2 linked regions of the Homo sapiens genome follow. The protein of the gene in region 1 interacts with the protein of each later gene in a pairwise test. Each region holds a gene or a part of one and is shown on either strand. Other genes may lie near its edges.

What was found.
Region 2: the proteins of SLC23A1 (region 1) and NBPF19 interact in a two-hybrid assay, tested with the Homo sapiens proteins (one large-scale study listed by BioGRID).

What each region holds. Positions count from the first base shown.
Region 1 is NC_000005.10:139,380,497-139,385,039, forward strand, and holds the start of SLC23A1 (solute carrier family 23 member 1), read right to left. Parts: upstream 2,802-4,543; 5' UTR 2,784-2,801; coding exon of another isoform or gene 2,758-2,783; coding exon 2,722-2,757; intron 2,110-2,721; coding exon 1,996-2,109; intron 1,554-1,995; coding exon 1,396-1,553; intron 391-1,395; coding exon 302-390; intron 137-301; coding exon 69-136; coding exon of another isoform or gene 57-68; intron 1-56.
Region 2 is NC_000001.11:149,478,012-149,481,818, reverse strand, and holds part of NBPF19 (NBPF family member NBPF19), read right to left. Parts: coding exon 3,772-3,807; intron 2,940-3,771; coding exon 2,725-2,939; intron 1,678-2,724; coding exon 1,605-1,677; intron 1,141-1,604; coding exon 935-1,140; intron 1-934.

The sequences.
Region 1 (4,543 bases):
GGCCACCCTCACTCCCATATAGCCCCTCCTCAGGACCCGGCCTCTTCTATGCTTACATGCAAACCCACCTCCCGTATCCGTGGGTGCCAAATATGAGAGGTGTTCAGGGGCAGACTCCAGTTACCGTAGATCTCCTCTGGGGGTAGAGTCAGGGATACACACACGGACCAGGTACAGAGACAGAGAGGGAGAGAAGATGCTGCCATGGCTGCACCCTGGTGTTGACCCGGGACAGTTGCTCAGACCTCCAGGTCTCTGGGCCTCCCCTTTTCCCCAGTGCAGACCCCAGAAGTGTACCCACCTTCCGGGGGGCATTTCCATCTCTCCAGAGCCAGTATGGCTTTGGCTGGAACCAGAAATGCAAAGGCACTGGCCTGGAACAGCGGCAGCCTGGAGGAGAGGCACAAAGCAACAGGGGTGGGGAGGGGCGGGTGGGGAGGAGGGATAAAGATGCGGGGAGAGATCAGGAAGGGAGAGCACAGAGAGAGTGACAGAGACACAAGGGACAAGGGCAGATGGAAATCGTTGAGGCCCCAGGGAAGACCATCTCTAACATTTTGGCTGCCCAAGGAAGAAAACAAATGGAGCCCCCAGCTCAAAACCTGCCCCCTTCCCACCACCAGCTCCTGCACTGTGAGGAGGGGGCACCTGCCCGGAAGTGGACACCTCAGTTCCCGCATCCAGGTTTCTCTCACAATCTTCCCCTGTCCCCCGCTGCTCAAACAGCTCAAATGCCACCCAGGCCTAGGGCTGTGCACTCGGGAGCGTGGGGCCCTGGGAGGGTGGGCTGTCGAAGAGGCTGGCACCAACCCTGGGAGCTAGCTCAGGGCTGCCATCTGGGCAATATTCAGAATGGGGTTTAAGAGGGGAGAGCCGGCTAGGCTTGGTGGCTCACGCCTGTAATCCCAGCACTTTGGGAGGCCAAGGTGGGCAGATACAAATACAAAATTAGCCGGGCATGGTGGCGCATGCCTGTAATCCCAGCTACTCAGGAGGCTAAGGTGGGAGAATCGCTTGAACGCGGGAGAATCGCTTGAACCCGGGAGGTGGTGGTTGTGGTGAGCCGAGATCACGCCACCGCAATCCAGCCTAGGCAACAAGAGCAAAACTCCGTCTCCAAAAAAAAAAAAAAAAAAAAAAAAAGAGGGGAGAGCCAGCGAGGGTACAATCCCTTAAACTTGCAGATGCCTGGTCTTTGAAGTGTGCCTAGATCAAGATTCCCAGGGTTGGGGCCACGCTGCCCAGCTCTAAGGCTGGCCTGGGATAGGAGAAGCAGGTGGAGGCAGAAAGCGGCTTTTTTGTCTCACCAGTGTCCTCTGGGAGCCCACCTGCTCCTGCTGTGTGGATCACAGTGGAGGGGTGGCGGGGGACGGGTTGGGGGGCTGGGCGGCTCACCGGATGCCCACGGTGGTCTGGATGAGAGTGGTGATGCCCACGCACGTGAAGATGGTGCCGATGAGCTGACTAACCATGTGCTGGTCGTGGCCCACACACAGCGCCTCAGCCAGCAGGAAGGGCACGGCGATGGTACCACTGAAGCATGTCAGGTAGTGCTGGGCAGAGGGAGACAGCAGAGTGCATGAGGCAGGACCCCAGAGCTCCAGGGAGAGGGGACAACCTAGTGTCCTCATGCCTGCCTCAGCGGGCCTGGAACCGGCTGCCTGCCCAGGACTGGCAGTCCCCACAAGGGATTCCCAGAGAGCTACTGCTGACCACTCTGGGGGTCACTAATTTCCACTCAAGATATTCCTGCGGCTTCCGTGGAGTCGGCTCTGCTCCCTGTCACCAACACCCCACCTGGCAAGCGTCACACTCCCCCAGGGAGTTCATCTTCTTTCAGGATTCAGCCTCTTCCCGACTCCTGCTTGCTGACAGCCACTGTGCTGACCTCAGGTTTTTCTTCCTGTTACCCAAGATACTCCCTGCTGGCCAGGGAGGGGCTGGAGTCCCCGGGGAGTGTGCAGAGTGAGGGCGGGGAGGCCCTGGGGGACCCACCTGGAAGCCCAGCAGGATGCACAGGTACCAAGGTGGCACGTCCTCGATCTTGTACAACATGTCAAACTTAGGCTCTGTGGGTAGCGGGGTCGAGGGGTCCCTGGTGGTTTCATGCTGGAGGCAGCAGAGATAAGTAGCTTAGGGTGAAGTGATGGGGACAGGCAAAATCCATTCTGCCCCAGAATCAATCAGGCAGCCCAAGTGGCTTGTCAGCAACTGAGAGCGGGGTTCCCGCCCTCCCCAACAGTCCATCCACCCGGGTGCCACTTGGCCTGGCCACAGTTTTCTCCCACTTTGCATTGCTTCCCGCAGGGATGAGTCTACTGTGCCAGCTTCTAGAGCCCTCAGGACCTGCCATTTTAGCCAGGGAAGTGGACCCTTAAGTCAGAAGTCTTGGAGACCACAGGAGAGGGGGCCAAGAGGGCTCAAGACTGTGGACAAGTCCAATCCGGTCCCACCTCTGCCCCCTGGAGATCCTTGGGGTGTCACTGGCCGGGAGATTAGGCCTCTCCTGAACCCCAACCTGGAGTCAGCCAGTCCCAAAGCTGCAGGCTCCTTCACCCCCACCTCCACCCATCCCCCAGTTGCCACATTCAATTTGGGACAGTCACTCTTATCAAGTTCATCAGAACGTTTATCTCTGGCCTCCAGGAAGAAGGCCTGCACAGGCCCTCCAGCCCCCCACCCCCCCTGCCCCCCCTAGCCCCCACCCCCAGCCCCCAGCACCTGTGTCCGGCCCTCGAGGTCCTCCTGGGCCCTCATCTTTGGGGCACAGGTTTGAGCAGTTCCTGAGGAGAAGAGGGGATGACTTGACAAAGGCCAAGGAGGAGGACTTTACTCCACATATCAGGCATTGTTTGAAGTAAATCTGTAACCAGATGCCCAGCTCTGGATTGCGAAAGGGGGGCCCGGGCAGAGGTAATGTATTAACTCTCACTAGGACAGTAAAAGCCACCCAAGCCTCTGCCACATGTGCCCTTCCCTGCCCACATCTGCGCCTGGGCGCTGGACCTGTTCTTGTTTCCCAAGAGAGGGCCAGAGTCGAGGGGGTGAGGACCAGAAGTTTACCAAGCCCCAGGTGAGCGGAGAAAGAGGGAGTGGAAACAGGCACTTATTATGTAACCCCCTGTATGAGGCCCTTCCCCACTGATTAATAACTAGTTCATCATTATCATCATCATCATAGTCATTCTCGTTATTGAGGAATGGCCTTGGCCTTGTGCCAAGAAACATGGATCTGCACTGTCCCAAGTAACCCCTGTGCTGGGCGGTATTAACCCCTTTAACAGCGAAGGAAACAGATTCAGTAGATGTGATTTGACCCAAGCCATGCAGATAGCAAGTTTGCAGAAACCAATCCTAAAATTCAGGTTGGTCTGAGCTGCCTTGCCCTCACCACCCTGCACCCCTCAGGGTCCCTGAGGCAGGCAGCAGATGGGCCTCTGCAGGCAGAGCTGCCTAGGCTGGCCCAGCCGGGTCTGCACTCTGTGTCAGGGCACAGATCCCTTTCCCCTCCCAGCCACATAATTTCTGGGACCCAGTGCAAAGTAAGAATGTGAGGCCTTTATTCCAAAAGTATAAAGAATTTAAAGATAGCAGGAGCATTAGATGGAGCGTGGGGCCTTTCTATGCACCAAGCCCTGTGTGACTGCCCATCACCTAGCCCAGGAAGGCAGTCCTATGCCCAGCCTGTCTCCCCTCCTGGCAGGCCCAGCCCAGCCTGGCCCTAGGGCCTGAGATGGCAGAGGGGGACATGGGGAGGGGCCCTAAGAACTCAGGCTCCTCAGCTGGTGAGGGCTGGGCCTGAGGTCCCCATTCTGTTCCCCTCTGGGCTGCCCCAGCCCCAGCACTCTAGAGCCCACCTACTTCTGGGTCGCTGTGCCCATGGCCAGGCCCTGCCTGAAGGGCCAAGGGGCAGCACCGCTCTCCAGCTGGGCAGCAGCTTCATGCCACAGCACTGAGTCCGCCCGCCTGCCGGTGTCCACACTGTTCCTCTGTCCGCCTGTCCTCTCCTCTCCCTCTTGGCTACTGCTCCCAATTTCCAAAGTTGCTGGACCAGTTTGAAGCCTCTGCAACTCCCCAGCACTTTTCTCTCCAACTTCTCCTCCCAGAACTCCCCAGGGTGCTGTGGAGACCAAGCCCGACCCCCTGCAGATACGGCTCCATGGACACTCAATTCAACCCAAACCACACAACACGCATAGAGAACAAGGTGGAGAACACGGTCCCAGATCCACAGTAGCATGAAGGGGCCCACACACCCAGAGCTGATGCAGCCTCTCTAATCACCCCACAGAAACACAGGTCCACGTCATGGGTGCCCGGCTCCACACCCTGTCCTGAAAGCTTAGTGGGTTTCTTGGGCCCTGACTTTCCTCCTGGTGTCTAGGGTTTCTCTCCTGAGTGAAGGCCACGGATGGTGGGGCTTCAGGCAGGTCCTGGAACAGGTGAAGGATGGAGGGGGCTGAGTGCAGCTCCCAGGGAAGCTGGAGTGGCCAGGGCCTGCCCCAGGCACCTCCATTCCCCCAGCAGCCCGCCTCTCCGGTCC
Region 2 (3,807 bases), on another chromosome or scaffold:
GTTTAGAGGCATCTATACATGAAACACGACTGATAGATAAATTTTAACAACTCTTGCTTTAAAAAGAATCTGTGATTTGGGAGGCCAAGACAGGTGAATCATTTGAGGTCATGAGTTCAGGACTACCCTGGCCAATATGGGGAAACCCTGTCTCTACTAAAAATACAAAAATTAGCCAGATGTGATGTTGTGCACCTGTGGTCCCAGCAACTCAGGAGGCTGAGGCAGGAGAATCACTTGAATCTGGGAGGCAGAGGTTGCACCAAGCCAAGATGGTGCCACTGCACTCCAGCCTGGGTGACAGAGCAAGACTCCATTGCAAAAAAAAAAAAAAAAAAAAAAAAATCCACGATGCTACAAAGAAACATTGGATCAGCCATTGCATTGACAGGGTGGAGAACCAGGGTCCAGCCTTGCTTTATGGAAATATATCAGCAAAGTAAAGAAGAAAAGTTTCCGTCCTGATTTCAGGGTGACTGTGCAGCTAAGCAAGCTGACTTAAAGGAGATCCAGATGAAAGCTGAGAGCAGTGAAGCCTGGGGAACAATATTTCCAAATACAAAGGCAAGGCTGCCAGCTTCCTTAAACAGGCATAGAAACTCCATGGACATTGTTCAGGGACAGATGACTTAATCACAGATGACAAGAGATACTGAATCGAAGATAGGAGGCCTGACAGATACTGCCTGTGCACCTCCTGCACTCAGGTGACTATGAGATTGTCACACTTGCCTGGGGTTGAGTAACTTGATACTGGGGACTGGCAGACAAAGTCATGACATTAGCTGAGAAGGACAAAAAAACTCCCTGATATCTGTTTAGAAACCCATCACAGTTTTTTATTCAAATGAATTTGTGTTTATAGAGCCTGTCTTCAGAGTTTATCTTTCTCAGCCTAGAGAGAGGTATGAGACACAAGGAAAACAGAGGCTACCTGGAATAATGTGTACAGCATCCTCCCATTCAACATGAGAGGATGAGCCAATGAGAGTTGAGTCGACTTTGTCTTCCTCAAATGTGATTTTGGTTTTCCTATGTGGCTGGTTGGAGTCATAAGGGCCATGGCTATTTGAATAAGTGATGGCACATTCCTCCAGTGAGTCCTCAGGGACTTCCTTTTCTTCAGCCTTCTGCATCTCCCTGATGAGCCAGGTGGGACAGAGATGACAGAAGATTAAACACAGAGGGATTGGACCCCAGGGAGTCCTAGCTGGTTTTGACAGGCGGCATTAAGAGAGTGGTCCCAGAAAGCAAAATGGAGGTTCCCATTAAGAGGGAACATGCAATCCTGTTCTCTCTGCAACAGAGCATGGCTGCCATGGGAACCAGAGAGGAAGAGAGCAGCTGCTGTTCATTGCACTGGACAGATAGGAGCTGAGGAGGATGAAGACTCAGCTATCCCTGTAAGGTGCAGACATGACACTCAGCACACATAGAGAAACATGACAGCTACCGCACCCTGTGTCTAAGCTGGATTATATTTCACATACTGTGGCCAAGCGAATGCGGGTTTTTGGCCCATCATAGATGCCAGAGAGGGTGTGCCTCCTAGATATTCCTCATATGTTACCATCCATTAATTGTTCCTGAGTATTCAGTGTTACCTGGGGGCAGACGATTTCTGCACTTTCTCAGCCACCTCAACTTGAACATCTTCATCGTCATCGTTGTCATTTTCTGTAAATACAGAAGTGTTCGTTCAGATATTTCCCACTTCACAGTCTGCAAGCACAGTCAGCCCAATGTGCAACAGAGACATGAACATCTAGGCATGGGTCACCGTTCAACTGAAAACTCTCATGTTTTATCTTTAACAGAATGCCCTGCCATGGTTTCCTGATCCATCAGGCAATGCATTTCTGATCTGGAGGGCCACCATCAAGATGTGGCCAAATATTGAAAAGACCTTTTGCTTCCCATATCACTGGAGGCTTGTGCAGCCTCTCTCTGGACGTTGGCAGCTGTCTCCCCCATCCTGCCAGATCTGATTCCCAGGCACAGGCTTGGTGTCCTGTCACGGTTTGCATTTCAAACCTCATTCTTTCTCTTAGGAGAGGACAAACTTGTCCCACAGTCCTCTATGCGTCATGAGACTGCACAGGCCCTCCATGTGGCTTCTGCTGTGTTATTCAGGGACATTCTATCCATGGGGAGTGCTCCAGTCTGAAGCACTTCCTACCACCAAATGCCCCCACATCAAGTGCCTTCTCCAACACCACATGGAGAGGGGCTTCATCTCATTTTGAAAAGCATTCGTAAGTGTTCCCATATTTGGATGCTTCAGACCCTTGCAAGAGACAATTTGTCTGCCTTTGCAGATGGAGAGAGAGAAACTCTGAAAAGATAAATCACTCACTGACACTTACTAAGAACACTGCCAAAAATACAGCCTGGGAACCTTCATTCTTAGCCCAGAGCTCTTTTCACTCCAACAAGCGCCCTTCCATCACAGCCTCCTTCCTGTCCTTTAAAACTAGATAGATGCTGCCTCTTGCTCCAAAGACCACCTTCCATCAAGGAAGGAGGGACACTTGCAATACTGTGACCTCCAAACCCATGGGTTTCCCATCTCTGTTCTTACCCAGGAAGTCCTGATCATGTCATGGCCACATAGGTGTAGTAGAAAAAAACCCCACTGATATAACTGTCATTGTGAAAGTATGGAGGTCTGGAGCCTCTCATAAGCCTGGGGTTTTGGGTCATCAGGGCCTATGGCCACCTTACCTGGGCTGAGCTTTTGGACAAGGTGCTGTGCCAGTCTACACCCCTCAGCCAGCTGTTCTTGGAGGTCCTGCCCCTGGGACTTGTCCGGCTCATCCGGAGTGAGGAGGGCCTGGAGATGCTCATTCAATGAGCGGGAGGCATCTCTCCCTTCCCGTAACTTCTCCCTTAACTGGGTCAGCTCTCGTTCCTGAGAGTGAAACAGGACTTTATATTGCCTAAGGTGAGACGGTAGAGAAAATTTAAGAGTAGAAAGGGTTGAGTGATCCGTTCAAATATTGCAACAGAGACTTCTGAGACAATGTCCTCAAGGAGACCTCCAAGCAGAAGGTCAGCACATGTTGAAAGGAATGACTGTGGCCAAGAGGAAGAATAGAAAATGGTCTACAGGCTTTCCCTCTATCAGAGAGGGCTCCTGCAAGATCCTCGATGATGTTCCATTCATCTTTCTCTTCTGTAAACAAAAGTAGGTGTCTTCCTAATTCCGTTTCAAAAAGACATCCTTTCAGTTCCTCACTCTGGCCATGGACATTTCCATGTGAAAATACACATAGTGCATCTTGCGGCCACTAAATACAAAGCCATGTACAGAAATGAGGCCAGGTGCAGATGGGGCGAATTGAAAAGATGAAAGAAGAAAAGAAGGACAGGGTCAAGAAGGCAACATTGATTGAGTGAAAGAATGAGAAGACGCAGTCAGTCAGGAGGTGATTCTCACTAAGGGTAAGTGGGGTGGTGATAGCACACCATTTTGATTATACTGAATGCTGCTGGGTGGTTCCCACTCCTTTGGTGAATTTTGTGTTATGTAAATTTCACCTCAACAATTACTTGTTTGAAAAAGAGAAAACAAGGCTCTAAGAAACAACTGCAACACAGAACTTATTATTATCCTTGTTCACTGATAAATATTTGTGTGTCATGAGCCTGTCATGGCAATTTCTGCCCTTCCCCTGGCCCAGCTTCGTTCTTATTTCTCCCCGCCGAGCTGCTGTACTTCAGAGATCTACACACCTACCCGCCTGCCCTCCCCCCACGGGGTCCCCTCACCTGAGCTCCTCAGCTTGCTTCAGCTGCTCTGCAAGC